Linked DNA regions of Homo sapiens: region 1 is linked to region 2. Evidence: fine-mapped expression QTL. A gene starts in region 2. The other region holds a variant in brackets. All regions are shown on one strand. Distances are between the middles of the regions.

Evidence for each region.
Region 1: its variant is fine-mapped to the expression of NDE1 in spinal cord (GTEx, PIP 0.98).

Annotation. Positions count from the first base shown.
Region 1 is chr16:15,694,676-15,700,044 of GRCh38, reverse strand. NDE1 (nudE neurodevelopment protein 1) reads right to left here. Exons shown (of 9, transcript NM_017668.3): 8 at 3,185-3,336. Among named protein-coding and RNA genes, the nearest start is that of NDE1, 47 kb to the right of the region's middle. The variant G/A (reference allele first, on the strand shown) is at 2,795.
Region 2 is chr16:15,648,008-15,653,376 of GRCh38, reverse strand. It overlaps NDE1 (nudE neurodevelopment protein 1), which reads right to left and starts at 3,132. Exons shown (of 9, transcript NM_017668.3): 1 at 3,083-3,132. RefSeq lists a silencer at 1-65 and enhancers at 2,430-2,929, 2,930-3,431.

The DNA of each region.
Region 1 (5,369 bases), 47 kb before region 2:
GCAATGCACACGGTGGCAGGTAAGGATGAAAAGACATTTCCCAGGGACAAACCCCAGAGCACAGGTGATGGCCTCGGTCATTGGCTTGGGCCGCAAAGCTAACTAACTATGGTGACTGCTCTTATTTCTCAAACTAACTTAAAACAAAAACCTAGTGTAAAAAGACGACAAAAGGTAACGACTTCCGCACCAACACCAAGACCTTCAGCTTCCGTGGTTTTCCTAAAGCAACATCTTGACTACCCCCTGGGCTGACGGCAGCGGCGATGAAGACATGTGTGAAGGCGGCTTCCCAAATTCCAGGCGCTTCCCCAACCTTCAGACAGAGCAAACCAAATTAAGCTGACATAACAGCTGTGACAAACTGGCTAGCACCGGGGCCCAGAGAGTTATAAGGGTGAACATCAAGAGTCAGGAGCAGGGTCTCACAGGGTCTCAATTTTCTCTCCTGTGAAATGAAGAAGAGGACACTGGCTACCTGGCTCTCAGATTCCAAGGTCACACAAAACGCCCAGTCTCAGACCCACTAGAAAAATCCATCTCTTACCTATTGTTTGTTTGTTTTACAGCCTACGCAACATAGTGAGACCCTGTCTCTATGAAAAATGCAAACAAAAATTAGCTGGGTGTGGTGGCCTGCATGTGTAGTCCCAGCTACTTGGTAGGCTGAGGTGGAAGGATCGCTGGAGCCCAGGAGGCGGAGGTTGCAGTGAGCCGAGATCACACCACCGCAGTCTAGCCTGGGTGACAGAGTGAGACCCTGTCTCCAAAAAAAAAAAAAGGCCAGGCATGATTGCTAACGCTTGTAACCCCCAGCACTTGGGAGGTCAAGGTGGGAAGATCGCCTGGAAAATTAATCTGAAAACTCACCTCTAGAAATCTCAATGAGAAGCAGACTACAGTCTCAGAGGTGTATTCTCAAACTCAAAGCCAGGAGGTTTGAGACCAGTCTGGGCAACATAGCAAGACTGTTTCTATAAAATATAAAAAAAATTAGCCAGGGGTGGTGGTGTGCACCTGTAGCCCCAGCTACTTGGGAGGCTGAGGCAGGAAGATGGCTTGAGCCCAGGAGGACGAGGCTGCAGTGAGCTATGGTCGCACCACTGCACTCCAGCCTGGGTGACACAGCAAAACCCTGTCTCGTAGAAAGAAAACAAACAAAAATTAATTTTTTTTTTTTTCTTGAGAAAGAGTCTCACTCTGTTGCCCAGAGTGGAGTTCAGTGGTGCAATCTTGGCTCACTGCAACCTCCACTTCCTGGGTTCAAGTGATTCTTGTGCCTCAGCCACCCAAGCAGCTGGGACTACAGGCATCCGCGACCATGCCCGGCTAATTTTCGTATTTTTAGTATAGATAGGGTTTCACCATGTTGCCCAGTTTGGTCTTGTGAACTCCTGGCCTCAAGTGATCCACCCACTTCTGCCTCCCAAAGTGCTGGGATTACAGGTGTGAGCCACTTCACTGCACCTGGCCTAAAAATCCACGTGTAAAGGTCTCAAAGTTATGTGCATGCCATGGAAAATATTCTTAATTTCCTGTCACGTGTCTGCTACAAACCCATCAAATTCCTACGGCTTGGGGCCCAGAGAGATGGTAGTCACACACCTTGCAGAATTCCTGAATCTGAAAGCTGCCCCTTTTTTTTCTGAGACAAGGTCTCGCTTCATCACCCAGGCTGGAGTGCAGTGGCTGGGAACACGGCTCACTGCGGCCTCAACCTCCAGAGCTCAATTGATCCGCTGCCCTCAGCCTCCCAAAGTGCTGGGATTACAAGTGTGAGCCACTGAGCCTGGCCCTGATTTTCTTTAGGCAAGAAAATTAATGACACTGTTAGAGATCAGATCTGCACTGTCCCATCGGGTGGCTGGTTTCAGGAACATAGTCTGGGCTAGAAGTTAGTGCCAGTTTCTCAAAGGTTCTACAGATTTAAAAAGAAAAAAAAGGGCTGGTTGCAGTGGCTCACGCCTGTAATCCCAGCACTTTGAGAGGCCGAGGTGGGTGGATCACAATGTCACGAGATCAAGACCATCCTAACACAGTGAAACCCCGTCTCGACTAAAAATACAAAAAATTAGCTGGGCATGGTGGCACACGCCTGTAATCCCAGCTACTCAGGAGGCTGAGGCAGGAGAATTGCTTGGACTTGGGAGGCAGAGGTTGCAGTGAGCTGAGATCATGCCACTACACTCCAGCCTAGGCGACAGAGCAAGACGTCTCAAAAAAAAAACAAAACAAAACAAAAAAAAAAACTTCAGGGGAAGCAGAGCCATGACTGATGCTCAATTCCCCAAATAAGGGCTTTATTTTTATTTAACTAATTAATTAACTTTTTGATATGGAGTCTTGCTCTGTCACCCAGGCTGCTGTGCAGAGGCACAATTTTGGCTCACTGCAATCTCTGCCTCCAGGGTTCAAGTGATTCTCCTTCCTCAGCCTCCTGAGTAGCTGGGACTATAGGCACATGCTACCATGCCTGGCTCATTTTTCTATTTTTTTTGGTGGAGATGGGGTTTTACCAATGTTGCCCAGACTGGTTTTGAACTCCTGACCTCAAGTGATCCACCTGCCTTGGCCTCCCAGACTGCTGGGATTACAGGCGAGCGTCACCACACCTGGCCCAAATAAGGGCTTTTATACAGGACATTCTCACAGTGTAACCGTGAGTAGCAGCTGTAGAATCAAATGATAAAAATGACCTTCTTGGCCAGGCATGGTAGCCCACACCTGTCGTCGCAGCACTTTGGGAGGATGAAGGGTGAGGATCACTTGAAGCTCAGAGTTTGAGACCAAACTC[G/A]GCAACATGGCAAAACCTGTCTCTAGAAAAAATACAAAAAATTAGCCGAGCACGGTGACACGCACCTGTACTCCCAGCTACTCGGGGGACTGAGGTGGGAGGATCGTTTGAGCTGGGAGGCAGAGGGTGAGCCATGATCCTGCCATCGTATTCTAGCCTAGGTGACAGAGTGAGACCCTGTCTCACAAAACAAGACCCTCTCTCTAGCCCTTTGTTCAAGCCACAAGACACCACCTAATGCTGCCTGCAGGGAGCAGAGGAGAGGATAAGGTTTGCTGAAATAATCCTATAATTTAAAAAGACACATGGCTGTGGGCTGGGGGTGAGTGTCTCTTGCCTGGGGCAGGCGGGTTCTCCCCGCCAGCGAGAGGTTTATTAGAAGGTACTGACCCCTTATCACCCAAAGGCACGCTGGTGCTGCTTGGCCGTCTCTCCCCGCCATCTCTGTTCTTGCTGCTCCGCCCAGAGGCTGGGCCACCTGTTCGGTTTGGGGACTGATCGTACACGAGGTTCCGGCAGGAAGCGAGTTTGGACTCCAGTGCCTGGACAGAAATACACTTTTATCTCTCAAGTTATAGGCAAGGACTATTCTGTCTTACCAGAGCCTGTACAGAAGAACGAACCCCAGACAGTGGTTCTCAAACTGTTGTGCACTGGAATTCCAAGGTGGGACCCCAAGAGGAATCCAACGTATATGCCAGTCTCAGAACCAAGCACCTTAAGTATTTGGGAGCTGGCTGGGCACAATGGCTCACACCTATAATCCCAGCACTCTGGGAGGCCAAGGCAGGAGGATGGCTTGACATCAGGAGTTTGAGACCAGCCTGGGCCACAAAGTAAGATCCCATCTCAGTTTTTTTTTTTGTTTTGTTTTTTACTTTTTTAGACGCTGTGTCACCCAGGCTGGAGTGCACTGGTGAGATCACAGCTCACTGCAGCCTCAACCTCCCAGGCTCAACCAATCCCTCCCACCTCAGCCTCCTGAGCAGCTGGAATTATAGGCATCCGCAATCATGCCCAGTTAATAAAAAAAATTTTTAATGCAAAAAATTTTTTTTAATTACGAAAAATTTTTTAAAATGTTTGGGAGCTGCCTGGAAAAAGATCACGGCTCACTGCAGCCTCAACCAATCCTTCCACCTCAGCCTCCTGAATAGCTAGGACTATGCACAATCATGCTTGGCTTAAAAAAAAAAAAAAAATTCTTTTTTAATTACAAAAAATTTTTTAAAATGGGAGCTTTCTGGAAAAATCACTAACCTACCAATTATCCAACTCCGCTTGTAGGAAGTAGGAAATCCACTTCTGGAATCCTTCACCCTTTGGTTTACCTTGTTAAACCTCTGCAGAATGGCAAGAAGTTTGGTAAGGACTTGGTCTGGCTACAACAGACCCTGAGGAAACCAAAAGGACACTGACAGCACCCCAGGCTTCTCTATACTCCAACTAGGCTAAATACTGAAATGCAGACCTGCTTCTAGAATAGCAAACCAGACAGCCAAAAACCAGAAGTAAAAACAAAAGAAATGAGTTGCAAGCTTCTATTAAGTTGTAGCTACAAATACACTGTGTACAGTGACAACTTGGTAGGAGTTAAATTATGTGGCCTTCTAGGCATCATTTTTAAAAATAAACTACAAAGAATACCTATGTTTTTACTTAAGCACAAAAGGATCCCTCCCTGTAATTAACATAAAAGCTGAAAGGCCAAATTCTTTGCCCTAGGCTTTCAAGATTTTTTTTTTTTTTTTTTTTGAGACCAAGTCTCACTTTGTCACCCAGCGGTGCGATCTCAGCTCACTGCAACCTCCGCCTCCCGGATTCAAACAATTTTCCTGCATAAGCCTCTCAAGTAGCTGGGATCGCAGGTGCCCACCACCATTCCTGGCTAATTTTTGTATTTTTAGTAGAGATGGGGTTTCACCATGTTGGCCAGGCTGGTCTTGAATTCCTGACTTCAGGTGATCCACCCATCTCGGTCTCCCAAAGTGTCAAAATTCACTTAAACCCCAAGAAACAAACCAAAAAAAAAAAAAAAAAAAAAAAAGGTGGCAGTTTTTTTCTCTTCTGAGACAACGTCGTGCTGTCACCCAGGATGGAGTGCAGTGTTGGAATCTCAGCTCACTCAGCCTCAACCTCCCAGGCTGAAGCAATCCTCCCACCTCTCAGCCTCCTGAGTAGCTGGGACCACCAGTGTACACCATCAGGCCTGGCTAATTTTTGCATTCTTGTAGAGGCCAAGTCGGGGCAGGGGGTTTCACCATGTTGCCCGGGCTGGTGTCAGACTCCTGAGCTCAAGTAATCTCCCACCTTGGCCTCCCAAAGCACTGGGATTACAGGTATGAGCACCCGGCCAAAAGAGAAGGCAGTTTCCAAGTGCTCCTTAATTTTTCGAGTTAAGGAAAAAACACACATATCACCCTAATTTCCCAAATTTCCTAGAGGAAAAACGGTAAAAGGAAAGAGACATACATAGGGTTCAGAGCAGGGCTTCGAGTCAGAGCTCTGAGTGTCTGGCAGTAACTCCCACAGGAAGCTCTAATGATTCCCAGGGATGCTAAAGGAGCAGCCACAC
Region 2 (5,369 bases):
ATCAGTCAAGAGTCAGCAAGCCTGGCTTCTGTCTTTGTGCTTTCCAAGTTTACAATGATCAACCTACAAAAATACTTAGGCAGGCAAGGACCCATGTTCAAAGATGCACACCATCATTCACGAATGTGGAAAACTGGAAACCTCAATGTCAACAGAGGACTGAATGGAAAACGATGCAGTTGTTAAGAACTGTAAGTACTAATATGGAAGAAAGCTCAGGATATGTTAAAAATGGGTGCCCATTTTTGTTTATTTCCCTCTCTCTGTACACAGAATAGAAAAGGGTCTGGAGGATGCACCAGAATGGGGGTAAAGCAAGCCCTGTGGATTTGTACCTGACACCTTGCTTTAAGGTAAACTACATACACATATATACAGTAAGCATAGATCGCTTTAGAGATTTTAAAAAGCTTAGGCCAGGCGCGGTGGCTCTCTCCCACCCCGGCACGTTGGGAGGCTGAGGCGGAAGGATCGCTTGAACCCAGGAGTTCGAGACCAGCCTGGGCAACATAGTGAGACCCCAATCTCTACAAAAAATTTTAAAAATTAGCCAAGCATGGTGGCATGTGCTTTTAGTCCCAGCTACTTGGGAGGCTCAGGCAAGAGGATTGCTTGAGCCTGAGAGGTCGAGACTGCAGTGAGCTGTGATTGCATCACTGTGTTCCAGCTTGGGCGACAGAGTGAGATCCCGTCTCAAAAAACAAACAAACAAAAACTTGGACAAAAAGTAAAATAGCTATTGTTCCAGGATAATTTTATTCTACTGAACCAAGTGACAGGGAAAGAATTTTTCCTACTGTGGTTTTGCCTCCTCCAACCCTTTTCAAACATTTCTTGAATACCTACTAAGTGCTGGGCACTGCTGAAGGAGGCAGACAAAAAGCACCCACATCCATTGCACGAGGTGCACGTGTAGTACTAACTGCAGGCACAAACTTTCTGTACACAGGAATGCTCATGTTAGGAAATTACCTTGTGAGGAAAAGGAGTGTCAATTCTCGGCTCACATTCTAAGGCAAAAGAACACACTTTGGGCTGCATGCAGTGGCTCATGCCTGCAAGTAATCTCAGCACTGTGGGAGGCCAAGGCAGGAGGACTGCTTGAGCCCAGGAATTTGAGACCAGCCTGGGCAACAAAGCAAGATTCTGCCTCTACATAAAAAATAATAATAATGATAGAGTCGGGTGCAGTGGCTCATGCCTGTAATCCCAACACTTTGGGAGGCTGAGGTGGGCAGATCACGAGGTCAGAAGTTTGAGACCAGCCTGGCCAATATGGTGAAACCCCATCTCTACTAAGAATTAGCCGGGCATGGTGGCACGCACCTGTAATCCCAGCTACTCAGGAGGGTGAGGCAGAAGAATCACTTGAACCCGGAGGACTGAGGTTGCAGTGAGTCGAGATCATGCCACTGCACTCCAGCCTGGACAAGAACAAGACTCCGTCTCAAAATAAATAAATAAATAAATAATAAATAACACACTTTGGAAACAAAAATAAGTCAAGTTAATAAACTGTTATCCAACATGGGATAAAATATATGAATCACAGGCCCCTGAGACTTCAGCGGCACAGATCATCTGCATTTAATCCTACACAAAACACACACTAAGAGGAAAGGCTCAAAATGGGTTGTAGGCCGGCACGGTGGCTCACGCCTGTAATCCCAGCACTTTGGGAGGCCGAGGGGGCAGATCACGAGGTCAGGAAATCGAGACCATCCTGGCTAACACGGTGAAACCCCATCTCTACTAAAAATACAAAAAATTAGCCAGGCGTGGTGGCACGCACCTGTAGTCCCAGCTACTCCGGAGGCTGAGGCAGGAGAATCGCTTGAACCCGGGAAGCGGAGGTTGCAGTGAGCCAAAATCGCACCACTGCACTCCAACCTGGGCGAGAGTGAGACTCTGTCTCAAAAACAAAAACAAAAAAAAAAAAAAAAAAACGGGTTGTATACCAACGAGGTGATGGAGGCTGGGGTGGTCGGGTAACAAGAGGCTTTAGGAGTAGCTGGGATCTAATTAATCTTCAAAACACCCGACCCATGTCCTAAAATGCCATCCTATGCTAGAATACACTATAACAAAACTAAAAATGATGAACCTGCCTAGGTCGTGCTGCAAAGGCCTTTTCTTTAGAAAGTTAAAAGGGGCCTGAGGCTCAAAGTAGAAATTAAGAGGCACAACCTGGTAGTAACCACGGACAAAGCAATCAAGGAAGCTCAGGCCCTCAGGAGGCAGAAAGCCTGAGATGGCTCGGAGAAGATAAAGTCGCCTCCCCAAAAGCGGTGTCAAGGTGACAGCGGGGTTTCCCAGGACCTCAGAGACTCAGGTCCTCAGTGAGCCCAGCCATCACTCAAGCTGCGGAATAAGCATTTTCGTCCTTTACCCAATCCCTCCCCAAAGTGCTGTCAGAAGAAACCTGAACCGTCCTGCGGCAGAGACGGGAGCAAAGCGGAGAGCAGACTGCCCCAAACGTGTTCCCGGAGGGAGGGAGCAGGGTGGGTTTTTGGAAAGAGGCCTGCAGGGGCGGGACAGTGGGTGTGAGGGCAGGGGCAACGCTGCAATCGAGGGGTCTGGGGTCGCAGAGAAGCGGGTGGCAGGATGGAGGAATAGGAGAGAGAGAGAAAAGAAACGAGGGTCATCTAGGAGAGGAGTATGGGGAGGAAGGAAGAGGAGAAAGAGGATGGAGCCTGGCAGCGGGGTTTGGGGACCGGCAAGGCTTAACCACCCAGGAAGTCCCGGAAGGAGAAGAGGGCAACGGGGTGGGAGAGAGACCAACGCAGAAAGAGAAACAAAGTTGCCAAGGGCGAGGGGCCAGCGCGAGGAACGCACCGGTGGCAAGGCACTCAGTGCCTAACTTTTTAGGACGGGAGGCTCCAGGGAGGCGGGATTTTGGAGCCCAGGGACCGGGGGAGTCCAGGCGGCCGGGAAGCGACGCGCAAGCGAGGGGCGTAGGGGTCCCTGCCAGGCGGTGGCCCGGGGTCCCGGGATCCTGGGGCGGGGCAGAGGAGCTTTTCAGCCGCGGTGGAGGTCCCCGGACAGCCACCCCGACCCCAGCCCCGCGCAGCGCCTCACTTACCCGAGCAGGGGCGGCGAGGCCAACGCGGCGGCGGCGGCAGAGGCGGCTGCGAAGGGCGGTGCGGCCCCGGCCCTCCGGACCCCGCCCCCGCCCCGGAGCCTGCGGTCGGCGCCTCCCATTGGCTGCTGCTCTACGGTACCGCGTCCGCCTCGGCCAATCAGCGCAGAGCAGCGTCGTTTGGAAACTTTTTTCCCAGGCCGGGCGCGGCGCGGCCAAGCGGCGAAGGCTCCTGGCCGGAGGGGGTTTGAGAGGCGCCGGCTGCCGGGCGCTGGGCTGCGGCGGGCTGGCGGGCATTGGAGATGCTGCAGAACGCTGCCTGGACACCCGGGAAACGGGTTTGGGCTTGCGGGCCGCGCATTTCAGGAAAATACGCCGGCCTCTCCTTCACTTCGATTGCATTTTCCCATTCTTGCACTTTCTCCAAATCAGAAGGAAAGACAAAGATTCAGGCCCACTGAAGCTAGCAGTGCCCCGTGCCCTTCCTACTCCTTTACACCAAAAGTAGAATCTTCAGCATCATTATCTTCTCCAGAAGCAGGAGAACGTAGTGCACCAGAATTTGGTCATAAACTTGGCTTTGAGTCCTAGTCCTGCCCCTTACTAACTGTGTGGTCTTGGGAAAGTTGTTTAGCCTCTATGACTCCGTTTCCCCATCTATAAAACGCCATTATGGGTCTGGCGCGGTGGTCACGCCTGTAATCCCAGCACTTTGGGAGGCCAAGGCGGGTGGATCACGAGGTCAGGAGTTCAAGACCAGCCTGGCACATGGTGAAACCCCGTCTCTACTAAAGATACAAAAAATTAGCCGGATGTGGTGGCACGCACCTGTAATCCCAGCTACTCAGGAGGCTGAGGCAGGAGAATCACGGGAAACCGGGAGGTGGCGGTTGCAGTGAGCCGAGATCACACCACTGCACTCTAGCCTAGGCGACAGGGCAAGACTCCGTCTTAAAGAACAGACAAACAAACAAACGACATTATGCAGAGGACTAAATGACTTAACAGCATTTGTAAAAACGTTTAGAACAGAAATTTGAACTTAGTAAGTACAATATATGTATTTGTTAAATGATCTTGATTTTGTTTATTTATTTATTTTGAGATGAAATCTCCCTCTGTCTCCCAGGCTGGAATGCAGTGGCGTGATCTCCACTCACTGCAACCTCTGCCTTCTGAGTTCAAGCAATTCTCCTGCTTCAGCCTCCCGAGTAGCTGGGATCACAGGCCCGCATCACCACACCCGGCTAATTTTTATATTTTTAGTAGAGACGGGGTTTCACCATGTTGGCCAGGCTGCTCTCGAATCCCTGTCCTCAGGTGATCCACCCACCTCGGCCTCCCAAAGTCCTGGGATTACAGGCGTGAGCCACCACACACTGCCTGAAGATCGTGATTTTTAAATGGCTGTGTGTGCCAGGCACAATTCTCACAGCAACCCTAATTGTTCACTAACAAATTAAAATTAAAAAATAATTTTTTTCTTTTCGAGACAGAGTTTCCCTCTTGTTGCCCAGGCTGGCGTGCAATGGTGCGATCTCGGCTCACTGCAACCTCTGCCTCCCAGATTCAAGCGATTTTCTTGTCTTAGTCTCCCTAGTAGCTGGGATTACAGGCGCCCACCATTACGCCCAGCTAATTTTTTGTATTTTTAGTAGAGACACGGTTTCACTGTGTTGGCCAGGCTGGTCTCGAACTCCTGACCTCAAGCAATACACCTCAGTCTCCCAAAGTGCTGGGATTACAGGCGTGAGCCATGTAACTCAGAAGGCAGAGGTTGCGGTGAGTGGAGATCACGCCACTGCATTCCAGCCTGGGAGACAGAGGGAGACTTCATCTCAAAATAAATAAATAAATAAAATCAAGCCACCATGCTTGGCTGGAATTTCTTTTTTTCTTTATTTTCTTCTAAAACATCCTGTCATAACATGTTCATTAACAAATACCGAACATTCTGGTTAGTGGGTACAAAAATAGAGTTAGAATGAATAAGATCTAGTATTTGGGAGCACAGCAGGGTGACTACAGTCCACAACAATGTATTGTACATTTTAAAATAACTAAAGGAGTATAATTGGAGTGCTTGTAACACAAAGAAAGGATAAATGCTTGAGGTCATGGACACCCATTTACCCTGATGTGATTATGATGCATTGCATGCCTGTTATCAAAATATCTCATGTACCCCATAAATATAAACACCTACAGTGTACCCATAAAAACTAAAAATATATATATTATTATCCAGCTTTTTTTTTTTTTTGTGAGACAGAGTCTCACCCTGTGACAT